Homo sapiens: one gene and its partners. The protein of the gene in region 3 interacts with the protein of the main gene of each other region in a pairwise test. Each region holds a gene or a part of one and is shown on either strand. Other genes may lie near its edges.

Region 1 (4,179 bases), on a different chromosome or scaffold from region 3:
AAGGGCTGAGGTGCATGCAAGTGTCGGCTGGTTACTCACAGACACAGCAGCCCCTTTTACCCCGGAGAGAGTTCTGTTTGCTGGAGCCCTTATTCTGGCCAGCAGTGTCACAAATGCACACTGTAAGACATAGACAGTCTTGGAAAGAAAGGGAAACTGGCTTTAAAAATTCTTACTCCTTCTAGCAAAGCAATTCATCTTTGGCTATAAAGAATAACACAGCCAGGTGCGGTGGCTCATGCTTGTAATCCCAGCACTTTGGGAGGTCAAGGTGGGCAGATCACTTGAGTCTAGGAGTTCAAGACCAGCCTGGGAAACATGGTGAAACCCCACCTCTACCAAAAAAAAAAAAAAGAAAGAAAGAAAAGATTAGCCAGGTTTGGTGGTACGTGCCTGTAGTCCCAGGTACTCGGGAAGCTGAGGTGGGAGGATCGCTTGAGCCTGGAGGGCGGAGGTTGCAGTGAGCCGAGATCATGCCACTGCACTCCAGCCTGGGCAACAGAGTGACACCCTGTATCAAAAAAAAAAAAAAAAAAGAACAGTAACACATTATTAGAAATGAGCATTCTGAGGCCAGGCACGGTGGCTCATGCCTATAATCGCAGCACTTTGGGAGGCCGAGGCGGGTGGATCACAAGGTCAGGAGATCGAGACCATCCTGGCTAACACGGTGAAACCCCGTCTTTACTAAAAACACAAAAAATTAGCCGGGTGCAGTGGCGGGTGCCTATAGTCCCAGCTACTCAGGAGGCTGAGGCAGGAGAATGGCGTGAACCCCTGGGAGGCGGAGCTTGCAGTGAGCCGAGATAGTGCCACTGCACTCCAGCCTGGGCGAAAGAGCGAGACTCCATCTCAAAAAAAAAAAAAAAAAGAAAGAAACGAGCATTCTGAAATAGTCTTCCATATGATGCTTTTGACAATTCAGCAGGAAAATAAAGGATGTAAGAAATGAATGCATATGTTAGGCCTCTTGTTGACCTGTGGACTAAATTGTTTCTCCCTGCAGAGATCAGCAAGGACAACTCCTGCAAAGAAAACTGTACTTGTTCCTCCTGCTTGCTCCGGGCCCCCACCATAAGTGACTTGCTCAATGATCAGGACTTACTAGACGTGATCAGGATAAAGCTGGATCCGTGTCACCCAACGGTGAAAAACTGGAGGAATTTTGCAAGCAAATGGGGGATGTCCTATGACGAATTGTGCTTCCTGGAGCAGAGGCCACAGAGCCCCACCTTGGAGTTCTTGCTCCGGAACAGTCAGAGGACGGTGGGCCAGCTGATGGAGCTCTGCAGGCTCTACCACAGGGCCGACGTGGAGAAGGTTCTGCGCAGGTGGGTGGACGAGGAGTGGCCCAAGCGGGAGCGTGGAGACCCCTCCAGGCACTTCTAGAGCTCTTCTTCTTCCTTCATTGGCCTCTCCGGATGTTGAAACAACCACAGGTCAAGAAGGAATGTGAATCTGTTGTTTTATAAGAGTTTAGGACAAGGACGTGGAACAGTGGACACTGGTTTTCCCCAAAGCTGGCAGTTTTGTGGAGGGGTAGCTTGTTTCGGTGGTGGATCTCTGTTTATTTTTGCACATCTGTTATAATTTAATATTCAAATCTGGAATTAAGAAAACATATTTTCTAGTATCCTCTAAGGGCCAAAGTCCTACAATCGGAATGGATTCATGCCACGTTGAAGATAAAATTATCCTCTCTCTGAAATACGGTAAAGATTTAAATAGGTCCTGAGACTGTTGATAGCCCCAGACATACCCACAGCATTATATGTAACATCTCTCCTGATCAGTGCCATTCCCACGGTTTCAAAGAAAACAGCTACAAGGAATGCTTACCTGAGTGTCTGCAGCACCCTCCACTTCTCTCCTAGGCAATGAGACCCAGTGGCTAGAAATTCACCATGTCTATTCTCAAGATCCATGCCAGGGAGCTCTTTGACTCTCGTGGGAATCCCACTGTTGAGGTTGATCTCTTCACCTCAGAAGGTCTCTTCAGAGCTGCTGTGCCCAGTGGTGCTTCAACTGGTATCTATGAGGTCCTAGAGCTCCAGGACAATGATAAGACTCGCTATATGGGGAAGGGTGTCTCAAAGCCTGTTGAGCCCATCAATAAAACTATTGCACCTGTCCTGGTTAGCAAGAAACTGAACGTCACAGAACAAGAGAAGATTGACAAACTTATGATAGAGATGGATGGAACAGAAAATAAATCTAAATTTGGTGCAAATGCCATTCTGGGAGTGTCCCTCGCTGCCTGCAAAGCTAGTGCTGTTGAGAAGGGGGTTCCCCTGTACCACCACATCGCCGACTTGTCTGGCAACTCCAAAGTCATCTTGCCAGTCCCGGTGTTCAATGTCATCAATGGCAGTTCTCATGCTGTCACCAAGCTGGCCATGCAGGAGTTCATGGTCCTCCCAGTCGGTGCAGCAAACTTCAGGGAAGCCATGCCCATTGGAGCGGAGGTTTACCACAGCCTGAAGAATGTCATCAAGGAGAAATATGGGAAAGATGCCACCGGTGTGGGGGATGGAGGCGCGTTTGCTCCCAACATCCTGGAGAATAAAGAAGGCCTGGAGCTGCTGAAGACTGCGATTGGGAAAGCTGGCTACACTGATAAGGTGATCGTCAGCATGGACGTAGAGGCCTCCGAGTTCTTCAGGTCTGGAAAGTATGACCTGGAATTCAAGTTTCTCGACGACCCCACCAGGTACATCTCACCTGACTGTCTGGCTGACCTGTACAAGTCCTTCATCAAAAACTACCCAGTGGTGTCTACTGAAGATCCCTTTGACCAGGATGACTGGGGAGCTTGGCAGAAGTTCACGGCCAGTGCAGGAATCCAGGTAGTGGAGGATGATCTCAGAGTGACCAACCCAAAGAGGACAGCCTCGGCCGTGAATGAGAAGAAGTGCAACTGCCTCCTGCTCAAAGTGAACCAGATTCGCTCTGTGACTGAGTCCCTTCAGGCGTGCAAGCTGGCCCAGGCCAATGGTTGGTGTGTCATGGTGCCTCATCATTCTGGGGAGACTGAAAATACCTTCATCACTGACCTGGTGGTGGGGCTGTGACCTGGGCAGCTCAAGACTGGTGCCCCTTGCTGATCTGAGCGCTTGGCCAAGTACAACCAGCTCCTCAGAATTGAAGAGGAGCTGGGCAGCAAGGCTAAGTTTGCCGGCAGGAACTTCAGAAACCCCCCAGCCAAGTAAGCTGTGGGCAGGCAAGCCCTTCAGTCACCTGGTGGCTAATTAGACCCCTCCCCTTGTGTCAACTCCGGCAGCTCAAGACCCCCGAGCAACATTTGTAGGGGCCGCTGCTAGTTAGCTACCCTTGCCCACCGCCGTGGAGTTCGCACCTCTTCCTTAGAACTTCTACAGAAGCAGGTTGCAGTGAGCCGAGATTGCGCCACTGCACACCAGTCTGGAGACAGAGTGAGAGTCCGTCCCAGAAAAAAAAAAAAAAAAAAAGAACTTCTACAGAAGCCAAGCTCCCTGGAGCCCTGTTGGCAGCTCTAGCCTTGCAGTCATGTAATTGGCCCAAATCACCGGAGCCACGTGACCCTCCAGTGTCATCTCCGGGGTGGCCACAGGCAAGATCCCCAGTGATTTTGTGCTCAAAATAAAAAGCCTCATTGACCCATGAGAAAAAAGAAAACAGCAATGAGAAGTGACCCTGTCTTGTTGGTTTATTACTTTTTTTGTTATAAAGTACTTTGGTGAATTAACAGGATGCTAGTATTACATGGTGATACTCTTCAGAACACCTGCCCCATCTTTTTTATGCAAGTATGTTTACAATCAGTGGACTATCAGTAATGTCATTTGCTCAAATATTTTTTAAAGACCTACAGAAACTGATGGTTATTGGGAAAACAGTCAGGAAGTAGTGAGGTAATCAAGGCCATGGGAATAGTGTTTGACAAAGAGAGTACTCCAAATCCCTTTTGGTTACCCAGGACTTTAAAAAAGAGAGTACTCCATCACACCTGTAATCCCAGCACTTTGGGAGGCCGAGGCGGGTGGATCACGAGGTCAGGAGATCGAGACCATCATAGCTAACATGGTGAAACCCCGTCTCTACTAAAAATACAAAACATTAGCCGGGTGTGGTGGCGGGCGCCTGTAGTCCCATCTACTCAGGAGGCTGAGGCAGGAGGATGGCTTGAACCCAGGAGGCGGA
Region 2 (7,034 bases), on a different chromosome or scaffold from region 3:
GAGAGTTTCAGGATTTGCCTGTTGCCATATGGCTCAGGTGGGAGAGCCAGACTTTGAACCCGGACAGTTGGACTTCAGAGCCTTTGTTTTTTTTCCATGACAACATGTTGGGGCGCCTGAAGAAATCAGGCTCAAATGAAAAGGCAGTCAGGAGCTCCATGCCTCAGTTTGCTTTTCTGTAAAATGAGAGTAACAGACATGATGCCATCAGAATGTGTAAATATTAATCTGTGTAACCTGAGAACAGCACTGAGCATGTGGAAAACAGCGTGTAGGTGTTTGCCGTCAGTAGCACCCGCAGAAGACATTCTCAAGGCATCTTCTTGGCAGGCAGAGTCTGGGACCCTTTGTCCTAAACCTACCCAAGGCTGTGAAAGTGCCTGCAAATGCTTGACCTAGGTATTGCTTTTTGCTAAGCTTATGTAGGTTGCATAATAGTGTCATGAAAATCTTGTCTGAAATGCACATTTCCAGGCCCGGTCTCCTGCGATTCTCTCTCCATCAGGGGATATGCTGTTGTTTCAAAGCTCCTTTGGCTGGGTTGGGAATGGGGTATCCTGCAGGCAGACAGAGTTGAGAACCTCTGCTCTGGAATGACAGGGGAGAGAAGAAGGAAGGTGTAGTCATACATGCCGCTGTACCTTCAGGCCACCCTGTGTCCACAGTGCCAGGGAATTAGTGAGTGCTCAGTAAATAGCTCTTGTTTGCTATAGTGCCTTGGAGGTTCAATGCATCACATCAGCTAACTGAGGTAGAAGACATTCTTTCCACCTCTCAGGTCAGAAAATTGAGGCTCAGGCTGGTGACTCTTCTGTCCAGAGTCCAGTGAGTGGGGTTCTGCCCAAGGTGAGCCTCCTGAGCCCTTTCCACCCTCCAACATTGCGCTTGGAGGCCACCCACACCCTCTGGGCCCACCTTTTGAGAAGGAGCTTGTTTCCTGGATCCACCCCAGGCTGTTGTTCCTGCCTCCCTTGATGGCTGTGTGATGGAAGTACCGCGTGTCCACTTGCTTTTTATCTTTCAACTTGGAGATAGAGGCAGGCTAGATAGCGGTCTTGGCTGAGAACTTAGCCCAGGCAGGTAGGCAGAAGGGCTGGGGACACTGAGGCCCCACAGGAAGGCGGCTGCAGAGGTAGAGGGCCATGAGTAGGTGCCAACCTGGAGCCGTGTTCTCGGGGTGGGGGCCATGTGAAAAGAAACCTGGGCTCCCTCGGGTGGGGCGTAAGCCCCAGCACTACAGAATGGGAATGGATTACACAATCGGGGCCATAAGCAGGTCTCTTTGACCCAGATCTTTGACTTTCCCACCTAACATTGTTTGCAGACCTGCCTATGCCCTACCTGCCTGGGCTCCATCTCTGACCTTTTGAGTCCAGCGGGTTTTCTTGCAACTGAGCTGGTAGAAAGTGAGGCTCCTTAACAGTCTGGGGGCCTTGAGTGCCCTCCCCAGCAGTTTAATCTTTCCTTTCTTTAAATCTGTGGGGAGACTTTCTGCAGCTATACATTTTAAATCTGCATAGAGTTCTGTTTGAAGAGAGGTGGGTGGGGGCCCAGGTCTCCACCTTGTTCTCCTGCCTTCACCCTCTGCCCCACCCCCACGGAACCTAAGAAGATTCCAAGTAACCCTCTTCAAATATGGATGTGAGAGGGCCATTTAAGAGGTGGGTCTATGGCCTCTCTCAGCTGGGAATGCTTACCATCTCTCCTTCCTCCTTTTTAATCATGGAACTCTCCTCCTTTCTCCAGAAAGGCCTCCTTGGCTGTCCTCTGCTGGAGGGGAGGCTGGGTTGGGTCCTTCCTGGGACCTGTCCATGTCTCCCATGAAACCTGAGAGCCTGTCCTTAGTAGGTGTTGTGTTAGTGGTGGTGGAAAGGACATCTCCACTGATTAAGGAAGTAACTTGGACCATCTTGCATAGACAAGATCGGAGGCCCATTCCGGAGGGTGGAAACTGCAAGACCATTCTGGGGAAGGATCCTGTTAGCGTGGCTAGCATCCCATCTCGGGACAAAGGGTTCTGTATGAGGAAGCCATTTCCTCGTCCTCTGCTAACACTGGCTCCGTTTGTGTGATTTCCACAAATTATCTCAGACCATCCAGCGCAGCTCATGCCTGTCTTGCAATTTCACAAAATAATCCTCTAAGGAGACCAGTGTCCTCCTTTGGACTTCCAGTTATTCACCTCGTCCCCTCAGACGGTCGTCTTCTGTCTGCCAAACAAATTACTCGTGCTGCCAAAACTCCACTGAGAATCTCCAGGAAGATCTCGGTTGTATTGCAGAAAAGAGGTGGGCCCTGACGAGATTCCTGACACCTCCCTCTTCCTGCTGTTGTGTTTGGGACACTCTTGCTGACCTCCCTGGTGCTGTGCTCAAGTTGAACACACAGCAGTTCAGTTTCAGCTCCAGCCCCTCTGGACCCACACCCAGGGAGTGAATGCGGCTTTGGCTTGTTTGAGAGGGAGACAGTGGGGTTCACCTTCTTAGTGATCCCTTTTTCATTCCTTGAATATCAAACATCACTGATGCCTCCTGGGTTTCAGGCTCCACTGCAAAGTACAGGGGCCCTCGAGGAGTTCCTACTGTGGTTTTGTTCTCTGACATTTGTACTGTTTCCTTGATTCTGATTGCTCTGATACAGTTCCCTAACCTCTAAACTAGGGAACTTTCTTGAAGGTCCAGTGAATCCACCCATATTGTTTGCTGAGTTGATTAGTTAAGAAAGACAGTTCGTGAAGACTGCCAACTTCCTCACCCTCCCCAGGGCCTTGAGTTTCAGAAGGGCCAGAAAACACCAAGAGAGCCCATGAACTGCTTTGTAGCTTGACTTCAAAATCTCTTTGGGCAAAGAAATGACAAAGGATTGTATCCACAGTAAGGCAGGGCTATCCAGGGCCTATCTCAAGGTGGTTTTCCTTGAGGTTCAGGCAGAAATGGTGCTGTTCTCGGCAATTTTCTGGGGAAGTTGCTACAGCAAACAGCCACAGCACATGTTGATTTTTTCCCTCCTTTTAAAAATCTGTTCTATAAAGAGCACAATGTGCTGGAGAGAACACTGGCTTTCATGTGGCCTTAAAACCAGGCATGTTACAGAGGGTGGAATCTGGGCCAGTTGCTGTTGGTGACAATCGATGCTACCCTTGTCAGCAATTCCCGCCTGCTCTCCCTTTATCTGCTTCACTGAAGGCCTCCAGGGGACTGTTGTCCGCCCTCCCCCGAGGGAATGAGTGCCACACCTGCACCCACAACAAACCAGTGAGTTTTTCACCTTTCCCTCAGTAGGGAGGAATCTAGACATGTGGCCTTTGGAAGTCAAGTGGGCCTTTGTGTTTGTTTTTGAGCCTCAGGTTACCCATTTGTGAACTGGGTATAATACCCAGCCTCTCCCGGGGCAACCTCCTTGAGGAGCAAGTGAAACAGTGTGCTGAGTGAATGCTTTTCCAAAGCATTGAGTTGGCCGTCTTAGGAAGGTACTATGGGGGAGCTGAAAACAGAGAACCTTCTGGGTGTTGTGAAGGGAGAAAAGTTCAAGATGCTGGTTTTGCCAAAAGCTCAAGCCTGCTCATGATGGCTCAGTGGTGACTGCAGGGTGGAGGAGAGGCATGTGACTGTCCCAGCTGACCTCCACACGCTGAAAGCCTCATGGTCACGTGCAGCCCACCTTACAACGTTGTATCTGGGCCACGGGTGGTGGTGAGGACTGTGGATATATTTAGGGCAATGTGAGATCATTGTCAACATTCCCTTTAAGGTTGCTTTAACCTTAAAGCAGCCAGCTTGATGCTTGCTGACTTGGGGCACACATCTTAACCTCTTGATGCCTCAGTTTCCCCGTCTGTTAAATGGTGACATGCTGGCACCTCCCTCCTAGGGTTTCTGTGAGGCTTAAAGGAAGTACCGGGTTTAGAGTCCAGTTAGTGCCACAGATACTGTTCCTGGTGCTGTTTTTGTGGTGTGTCTGTGTAGGGTTACATTGTTGCCTTCCTGTGGCTGCTCTTCCTGGTGGGCGGAACCTGGAACTTCTAGAACAGATCATGGATGTTTCTCTGCTGGATACCCCTTCAGCCTCACCCTGTGGGAGTTGTGGCGGGGCCCAGGAGAGTTTGCTCAAGAGGGTGTGCAGGTGGGTGGCAGAGCTGGAGCAAGGCACTAGTCTTAACAGACAGGAGTCTGAGGCTGGCAGAAGTGGGGGCCTTGGTCCAAGGTGCGGGGCTAATCTGGCCAGAGCTGAGCCTGGCAGGGCCTTGGTAAGACCCTGTGGCCCTTTTGTCTTGGTGAAGCACCTTCCTGCCTGGGTTTCCATTTGCCTGTAAGTTTGTTGTGGACAGCGTGATCTCCATAGACGTACACTGTGCCTACTTTACAGATGGAGAAACCAAGGCCCAGAGAGGAAGTGACTTGCTCAGAGTCATGGAATAGGAAAGTGGCAGGGTCCCCATGCCCTGATTCCTAGGCCAGCGTTCCTGCTGCCCCACTGAGGTTTTTGGGAATCACAGGCTCTGTGTGTCCCCCTCAGTCCCCCAGGGGCTGTTGAACAGTTCTCAAGTGGTGTCGGATTACTGAAGATGCCTCTGCCCACTGCCCTCCCAGGTCCCAGGGTCACGGGTCACGTTCTTTTCTTCCTCGGGCAGATCCTGGCCTTGGCTTTGCCTGGCACCTGTGATCCAGCTCTCCTCTGACTCTCCTGGGTCTGCTGGACTGGAAGGGTATTTGTGTAGCCCCTCTTGGGCCCTCATTACTCATTGACAGACAGTGCTGGTGGAGAGAAGGGCCCCAGTGGTGACGCACTGGGCCTGATAATCAGAAACCTTGGTGGCATTTGCTGAGCATTTTCCATGTGTCCCTCTCCTCGCTGGGACTCTAGGACTGAAACCCAGGCCACATCCTCACAGATGTCCTGGCATCTCCAAGGCAACCCTGAAAGGAAAGTATGTTGATGAATTAAGCAACTGTTTGCTTAATTCTCCATGCCATTCTTGAATTTAAGCCCCACTGCTGATCATTGGGAGCAGGAGTTAGCATGCCCATTGACAGACAAGCAAACTGAGGCAAAGAGGTTAGATAGCCAGGCATGGTGGCATATGCCTGTAATCTCAGCTACTCAGGAGGCCGGAGTAGGAGGATCACTTGAACCCAGGAGTTTGAGACCAGTCTGGGCAACATAGCAAGACCCTGTCTCTCTAAAAAACAAGATGAATAATACATTTTTAAAAAGAGATTCGATAAATTATGCAGGATCACAGAGCTAATAAATGGTGACACCATGGCCTGCAAGCCTTCCCCCAGCTCCTGGCTACCTTTCGCTTCTCTGGCATTGGTCTTCTCGGAATTCCTCCCAGGCAGGTGGATGGGAAAAGAAGTGAAGATACAGGCTGGCAGCTGGTGCTGTGACCTGGAGCCCTGTTTTTGGTGCTAAGCTGGGTTTTAGCTGAAGGAGACCTGCTGGAGGGGTTTCTTCTGTGCTTCTTGGGGAGCAAAGATGGCCTTGGAGATGGAGACACGGTTTGTCAGTCCCAAGCCACTCCAAAGGTGGGGCTGGTGGGCTAGGAGTCAGCCCTGGTTCCCCCGCCATGCTGTGTGTGGCCCTGCCTTGCCACCCCACCTGCTGGAGGACCTCTTTGATGCTTTCTAGTGGGTCCCAACATTCTGTGATTAGGACTTTGCATGAGGCAGAGGGAGGGCAGGAGCTGGAGTCCAGCAAGGACCTCAAGCCCAGGGACAGGCTCCACCTGCCACACTTGCTAAGCCGTGAGGGCCTCAGGTGCCCGGGAGGAGGGAGCAGGAGTGGAAGCACCAGCTCGAGCCGCCAAACCAGGTCACGTATCACCTGCCATTTCCTGCTGGCAGAAGGAGATCACAGACACCAGAAGACAGCAGCTTCTGCCAGAACTGGGTCCTTCCATGATTCTCAGGTGGTGACTTTGAATCCCAGAAAAAGTGTTTTGGGGAGAGTGGAGTGAAGGAAGAGTGTGAACATTGGATCTGACTCCACTCCAGCCCCTGTGCTGCAGCCAGCAGGGTGAGCTCAGGACAGCTGGCAGCCGCTTGGGCCCAGCCCCCTCCTCCGTGAATGAAGGTGGTGGGGAGTGCACGTGTGCGTGTGAGTGCGTGTGAGTATAAATGACTGTGGATGTGAGAGTCCATGAAAGTGAGAATGTATCAGTGTGTAAGAAAGTGTGAGTATGTGAGAATGAGTGTGTTTGTGAGAATGTATGTATGTGTGAGTATAAGTGTGTGAATGTGAGAATGTCTGAGTGTGAGAATGAAAGTTTGCAAGTGTGTCAGTGTGAGGGAATGTGTGAGTGCATTTGAGAGTGTGTGTGTGTGTGTGTGCGTGTGTGCACGCATGCACTAGATTAAATAAGAATGCATCCAACTGACATTTTCTGGATACTGTTACCTACTAGGAATTACTAAAATCAGCTATTCCAGAGGAGGGTGGATGTCGCACCAGGGGACATTTGGCAACGTTTGCAGATTCTTTTGCTGGTCGCAGCGTGGGGTGTATGCTGTGGGCATGTGGTGGGCAGAGGCCAGGGATGCTGCTGAGCCTCCTCCCGTGCTCAGGGCAGCCCCTAAGGCAGAGGCTGCTTGTGGGGCCCAAATGTCAGCAGTGCTGAGCTGAGGATCTCTGTCCAGGAGGCACAGACGCTGTCCTGGATGCTGTCCAGACAGCATCTGCTCTGCCCTCCAGGGGGACAGACAGACAGTGGACACAGCCCAGATGCAGCCTGATGAGTGAGCCCAAGGGAGTGCCTGTCCCCTCGGGACTGTGAGCTCCGTGGGGGCAGGAACTGGGTCTGTTTGCTCATGATCCCCAGATGAGTCCCATAGCCAGTCTCATCACCATAGCTGGTGTTATTTTTGTTCTGAGCTCTGTGTTGGGCACATAGAACCTAGTGGGTAGAAACCTCTGAATAAATCCTGAGTTTTCCATCCTGCTTCCGTGAACTCAGATGTTCTTTGAGGGCCAGCCTGGTGGCGTGGGGGCTGGGAGTGGGCAGATTGTAGGGAGCCAAGTCCTGGGGTGGAGTG
Region 3 (7,034 bases):
GTTCATCAGAGCTGTTTCACAGCAGCAAAAACTGAATCAGGGAAATAAAATTCTAAATGATGTAGGAAAAAGATAAATGCAATCAGAACAGCAGTCTAAATGTATGATATCAATATTCAACTCTTATCTGCACTGTGTTGAAAGGAAAAGGATACACCAAGAAAATTTATACTGATCACTCTGGTGATGTGACTACCACCTGCATCTGATTTATATGGGTTGTATTCTGTTCCCAGTATTAAGGATGGTATTTAACTCAGAACTCCATATAGTAAATATACAGCAGCCATTTTGTCCTAATTAAGGAATGTCTTAATACACAATATTATCATTTTCTAGAGGATCTTTATACATTAAACTAAAGTACATGATTGATTAAATTAAAGGTTAGTAATGGATAAAAAATTCATAATTATCAAGGCTTGGTACTATGTAAAAAACAAAAAGACCACAAAATTCTACTTACTAAAGCAGCTAACCTTGCCTGCAAGTTTAGGGTCACAAGCCCATAATATGTGCAAAGAAATGCAATACAAGGAACCATGCAAAAATACAGTAAAATGATACAGAAAAATGTCAAATCTAGAAAAAAAAGCTTTTATAAATACATCAAAATCAACTGTATACATAAACTGTAGGTCTAGCATTAGTTGTACCATATAGCAGAGCCAGCACTCTAAGTTCAATGCTTCCAAATCTGCGCAGGTAAGTCATGCCATCTTTGGTTGACTGCAGTACCAGGAAGGATGGGAATGAGAGGGAGGGCAAGAGTTCTGAAACATGGTGTCAACTTTCACTTGGCAGCTGGGCCTCAATGTCCACTCTGCATATGGGGCACTTCTTATTGGTAATCAACCATTGGTCAACACACACTTGGTGGAAAAGGTGCATACATGGAAGACGTCTATTATTGGCAAGAAAACAAAAAGCAAAAATTAATTTTATGATAATTGTACGTAGTTAACAAATTATATATGTAATAATTCAATAATGTTTTGAAGGTACTAAGCATCTTCCTCTTCTATAAAAAACACATCGATTAAATTAGCACTCTGGGCAATATAATATATAAATGATCAAGATAATTAACTTTCAAAGCTACAGGACCAAATTATATAAAATCTTAAAAACTGTAAGAACACAAATTACACTGCCAATTATTCCAGTTTTGTTTTGGTACAGGAGCTGCCAATGCCCTGGAGTTAGCAGTATGTTACCTGTCACATAATATTGCAAATATATTTTTAAAAATCAAATCATCACTGTATTTGTAATGCCCTTTAAAAATACATATTATCTCAAATATATATTTATTACATCATTTAATTCTCTCTCAAAAACATTACAATTCATGTGGCAAATATATAGTAACTACACTTTCCTCACTAAAAAATGTCTTATTGTGCAATGTTATTTTCTATCAAGAATATCTTTACACATTAAACTTAAGTACATAACTGATTAAAGGTGAGTAATACTTTTTTCACGGAATAATTGTTATATACACTTAATATTGTGCTACTGTTTAACAGGTAAGTTAAAAGGAGATGTAATGATTTGTTTGTTTACATCATGCCAAATTACCAATTAGAAATTGAGAAATAAAGCCCCCAAGCAAGATAGGGTAACATTAAATCTGAGTGTTAACAGTGGAATAAAAGTTACTGACTCGTGTCCATTTCTACTTCTAGCAACTGTTAAGAGTTTTTATACACTTTTCAGACTTCCTAATATCTTGTTAAAATAATAGCCTTAAAAAGTATCCCAATTATTCCTTGAACAGTATTGTCAATACTGTAAAAGCAATTAAGTTCCAAATTTATAAACCTTCATTAGAAATACAGTGTGCAAAAAACCTTATTTGTCGTATGGTAGACAATTTTTTTCTCAGCCAACTGAAGAGGTACGACAAAGTTATCCTTATAAATTAGGGCAATAATATTACTACAAGGTTCTGTTATATATGATATAGAACCTGTTTCATATGGCATTATGTTAACATTAAAAAAAAGAACAGGAAGAAAACAATTACTTAAGTGATTATACAAAGAAAATGCCTAAAATTAATATAGGGTTAACATATTAACATTTTCTAAACAACAAAGGTGCAAGAAGGGAATAGTCCTACTAGTTTAGAGGAAATTTTATGACAAAACCAGTTTATAAAAGATGCTATAGCCGAGTGCAGTGGCTTACGCCTGTAATCCCAGCATTTTGGGAGGCTGAGGTAGGTGGATCGCTTCAGCCCAGGAGGTGGAGGTTGCAGTGAGCTGAGACTGCTGCCCTGAGCCTGGGCAACAGAAGGAGACCATCTCCCAGAAAAGGAAAAAAAAAAAAAAAAAAAAAAAAGATGCTGTAAAACAGACTGCATAGGACTAATCTGGATCCCTGTTTAAGTTTTGAAGAACACATTATAACTTTCTAGGACCTCCAAAGCCTCTCAAATTCTCATTTCTGCAAGATTTACAGAAGACAATTTTGACTACGAAATTTCCCTGGCCAAACCTTGTGTGGCCCTACAATAGGCAGTATATTTCCCACTCCCATGTTGGTAACATAGATACTTTAATCTTTTATTGTTTCACTCGCCAGATGAAGCCAGTTCTACGTGCCAGAAATTGGTAACAGTATATGCCAAAAGTAATCTTTATTTGGTTTCCAGTTTACTTTTACTCTTTTTTTTCAGAGACAGGGTCTCACTCTATTGCCCAGGCTGGAGTGCAGTGTGGTGTGCTCAAAGCTCACTGCAGTCTCAAACTCCTGGGCTTGAGCCATCCTCCTGCCTTAGTCTCCTGAGTAGCTGGCACTGCAGGTGCACACCATCACATGCAAATAATTGTACTATTTTTCTTTTTTGTAGAAACAGAGTCTTGTTATGTTGCCCAGGTTGGCCTCAAACTCCTGGCCTCAAGAGAGCCTCTGGCCTTGGCCTCAAAAAGTGCTGGAATTACACGTGTGAGCCATCATGCCCGGTGTAATTTACTTTTCAAATAAAATCCCATGTACAGTTTTGACAATGGATTTTAGATAATTAATATCTAGTTACCTCACATCTTCACCTTCCTCTAAAATAGACAAACAGATAGTACATTTTTCCTCTGTGTCTTCCTCAGTCCCTTCTTCCCCATCTTGTTTGCAGTGCAGTTTCCTCTGTGAGAACCAATCAGTTGTTACCTTATTAGTAGAGATGACATTATTGAACAACTGAGTAAAGTCTGTGTTTATTTGAAAAACAAAACAAAACAAAACCACATATTCACCCGCACTTTTTTCCCAGGTAAGACTGTCATAAATAAATGGATGAATTAAGTGACTATCATCAATTAAGTATATTTTTAAGACCCTCTAATAATTGGGATCAAAAGCAAAATCAAATTTAACAGAAATTCATTCACTTAAAAGCTATTACTTTTAATCCACAATGAGAATGATAAACAATATAAACTATTTTTATCCTACCATGAGCATAAATAAGTTTTTTTTATTAGTGAATGTTTCAAGTAACATCCATTTAAATTAACATTAGTTACAGTATTTAACTTGGACAGTTGAAAACTTGAATGTACTGGTAATACCTCAATACTCTTTGAAAATAGATGAAAAATACAGAGAATAGTAATTTTCACACTTTATGATTATTCTTTACATAGTATAAAGGAGTCTCCAACCCCTGGGCTGCAAACCAGTACCTGGCTGCACAGCAGGAGGTGAGTGGCAGGTGAGCGAGCATCACTGCTGGAGCTCTTCCTCCTGTCAGATCAGCAGCAGCGATAGATTCTCATAGAAGCGTGAACCCTATTGTAAACTGTGCATGTGAGGGATCTAGGTTGCATGCTCCTTAAGAGAATCTAACTAATGCCTGATAATCTGAGGTGGAATAGTTTCATTCTGAAACTATCCCCTCTGCCACCTATCCATGAAAAATTGTCTTCCATGAAAACTGGTCCCTGGTGTCAAAAAGGTTGGGGACCGTTGGTATTGAGCATGGTTTAAGACACGTATTTAACATGTCTACCCCATAACTGTATAATGCTATACAAGCAACTGAGGGTAGAGTAGAAGAAACATACATCAATAAAATGTCCGTCAAAATAAATTGCTAGTTAAAAAAATTACAGTACTGCCATATGATGGAATTCTGCATAAGCTATTAAAAATAATAAGGGTGATCTGTGGGAGCTAATTGGCATGAAAGGCAATCTGCAAACTATGTGGTAATCATCTCCTTTTGTGTTTTTTTTAAAGTAGACAAAAATATATATACATATGCACATTATTAGAAAATGCTAAAAAATATCTAGAAGAATATCTAAATCCTTAACTATGATTTCACTTCTGGGAAGAAGGACTAGGGTCTGCAGAGTAAAAAACTGCAAAGTATATATTTTTTATACTTTCCAAAATTTTTAAACAATATGTATGCATTACTTCAATAAAAATGTCATTGCTAGAGTCTACAAATTCAAAAAAGGTATATATTACATTTATGCCTTTCAGTAACACTCCAGAAGTTTCATAGAATAAATTCTTACCTTTTTGTATTTATGTGGATATGTACATCTTTCAATTGTCCCCTGGGATGCTCCACGATTGACATTGCCTAATCTTTCTTCCAAATGAATCAGTTCCTGAAAGTGAAGAATATAATGACTGGTAAAAGCCAAGATGATTATTCCTTGAACAGAACTGTCAACATTGTATAAGAAATAAACCTCCATACTTAGAAACTTGCAATATAAATACAGTGTTCAAAAAAACTTACACATGACAAGTGGTTACTTATATATAAGTATATATATAAAACAGTTTATATGTTGCCCAGGCTGGTCTCAAACTCCTGGCCTCAAGTGATCCTCCCACCTCGGCCTCCTAAACTGCTGAGATTACAGGTGTGAGCCACCATGCCTGACTTAATGTTTCTCATAGACAGTAAGGCAAATGGTTGTTTATCATGTTTTCCTCAGCCAACTGAAATGGTACAGCAAAAGTTATCTTTATAAATTACAACAATATTATCACATGGTACTATGTAAGTCAGTATGTATGTATGTATGGAGAAGATGAAATAATTCTAGTAAATTAAGGAACCAAATCAAACAATAGTTCTAAGTCACAATGACTCCAACTTCCAAACTGACATAAAAAAAACACAACGGGGGCCGGGTGCGGTGGCTTGCGCCTGTAATCCCAGTACTTTGGGAGGCCAAGGTGGGTGGATCACTTGAGGTCAGGAGTTCAAGAGCAGCCTGGCCAACATGGCAAAACACTATCTCTACTAAAAATACAAAAATTAGCCGGGCGTGGTGGCGGGCACCTGTAATCCCAGCTACTCAGGAAGCCGAGGCAGGAGAATTGCTTGAACCCAGGAGGCGCAGGTTGCAGTGAGCTGAGATTGTGCAACTGCACTCCAGTCTGGGTGACAGAGCAAGACTCCATCTAAAAAAACAACAACAACAAACAAACAAACAAACAAACAAAAAAACAAACCACAACAAAACTTTAAATCCCATTCGAATGATTTGTTCTTCCTGAAAATTCAAACAAGACATTTAGCTACAAAGGGAATTACTTAAGTTTCTTTTTCTCTACCGATTTCTCTAAAAATTTAGCTGAGTCAAAAACATTCCGTTCCCCACCACATTTAATGGTATAGTTATATATCTGACATTTATATTGATTTAATACATTTTTATATTCTTCTATATTAGATATTTTCATTTACTCATCTTTAAATATTTCGGTAACTTTTGACCCTAAGATTAATAATACTTACAAATATTTCTGTAACTCCCAGAAGCAACATCAGAAAATCACATGTGATTCCCAGCCACTGTAGCAGTCCTACACAATTGTGTATAGTAGTATATATATACTCAATCTGCATTAAAGATACTGTGACAAACATATTCATTTATTTTATTACATACCTCAAAATTGCCCCTGAAAGGACCTCTGAATGATGTTCCATCCAATCCTGATGAAATGTAACGGATGTGAGGATAGCCTGCCATATCAGGAACCTATTTCAACAGAAGAGATAGGCTAAATCAATTTTAAGAATAGACTTGTGATTTACTGTTAACATTGAATAATTCAAGACCCTCAATGTTTTCAATTCAACTGCTCATAAAATTTGACTTCAATAAGAATACATAACTCCAACTAAGCATTCTGTAACAGGTTTAGGTTTCTGTTAAAATATAACCTAACTCTCCAAAATGCCCAAACTTAAGCCTGAGGCTCTTAGTAGCTCAAACTTGAAAAGAGTAAAATTGTCTTAAGATCCTGTCCATTTCAGAGAGCTTTATTAAAACAACAACAAAAAATGCACACAATTTTCCAACAAAATTCGACTTCAAGATAAGTTTTTTACTTCACTTCTGTTAAGCTTCCTAACAGCCAAAGTACCCTATGCCTTTTTTGCTTGATTCTATTAGGGAAACTTTTAACACTGTTTTCTAATTTTTTGTTAGTTACAGTCAATCTTCATTATTTATGGATTACATATGTGTGAACTGACCCACAGGCTAAAATTTACTTGTAACCCCATAATCAACACTTGTGCTTTCAGAGTCATTCGTGGATATGACCGGTGGCAAAAAATTGCAGTTGCCCAACATGCAACTCTGTTCCCAGCTGAGGTAGAACAGGGCTCTGCCGTATTTGAGCTCCTACTATAAACCAGTGTCTTGTTTGCAGACTGTTTAGTGCCACGTTTTTCACAGTTTTGTGCTTTTTGTTGGTGATTGTGTTGTTTAAAATGGCACCCAAGCATAGAGCTGAAGTGCTGTCTAGTGTTCCTAAGCAAAGAAGGCTGTCATACACCTTATGGAGAGAATAAGTTTCATTCACGCATGAGTTACAGTGTTGTTGGCTATGAGTTCAATGTTAATGATTCTACAATATTTTTTAAAGTTGTCTTTAAGCAGAAACACACATAAAAAAGGTTATACACTGATTAGTTGTGAACAGAGGTTTGCAAGGGTCCCATATTTGCTAATTCAGTGTTTGCAGCAACTGTATAGATCATAACT

What was found. Proteins that work in one complex are often made in the same cells at the same time.
Region 1: the proteins of RNF111 (region 3) and EDARADD interact in binary tests that used the Homo sapiens proteins (3 or more experiments, as listed by UniProt).
Region 2: the proteins of RNF111 (region 3) and NDRG1 interact in binary tests that used the Homo sapiens proteins (3 or more experiments, as listed by UniProt).

Annotation. Positions count from the first base shown.
Region 1 is NC_000001.11:236,481,261-236,485,439, forward strand, and holds the end of EDARADD (ectodysplasin-A receptor-associated adapter protein), read left to right. Parts: intron 1-1,006; coding exon 1,007-1,389; 3' UTR 1,390-3,670; downstream 3,671-4,179. UniProt on the Homo sapiens protein: Adapter protein that interacts with EDAR DEATH domain and couples the receptor to EDA signaling pathway during morphogenesis of ectodermal organs. Mediates the activation of NF-kappa-B.
Region 2 is NC_000008.11:133,287,244-133,294,277, reverse strand, and holds part of NDRG1 (protein NDRG1), read left to right. Parts: intron 1-7,034. UniProt on the Homo sapiens protein: Stress-responsive protein involved in hormone responses, cell growth, and differentiation. Acts as a tumor suppressor in many cell types. Necessary but not sufficient for p53/TP53-mediated caspase activation and apoptosis.
Region 3 is NC_000015.10:59,088,653-59,095,686, reverse strand, and holds part of RNF111 (E3 ubiquitin-protein ligase Arkadia), read right to left. Parts: intron 6,021-7,034; coding exon 5,928-6,020; intron 4,629-5,927; coding exon 4,533-4,628; intron 3,175-4,532; coding exon of another isoform or gene 3,151-3,174; coding exon 3,047-3,150; intron 905-3,046; coding exon 787-904; 3' UTR 1-786. UniProt on the Homo sapiens protein: E3 ubiquitin-protein ligase. Required for mesoderm patterning during embryonic development. Acts as an enhancer of the transcriptional responses of the SMAD2/SMAD3 effectors, which are activated downstream of BMP.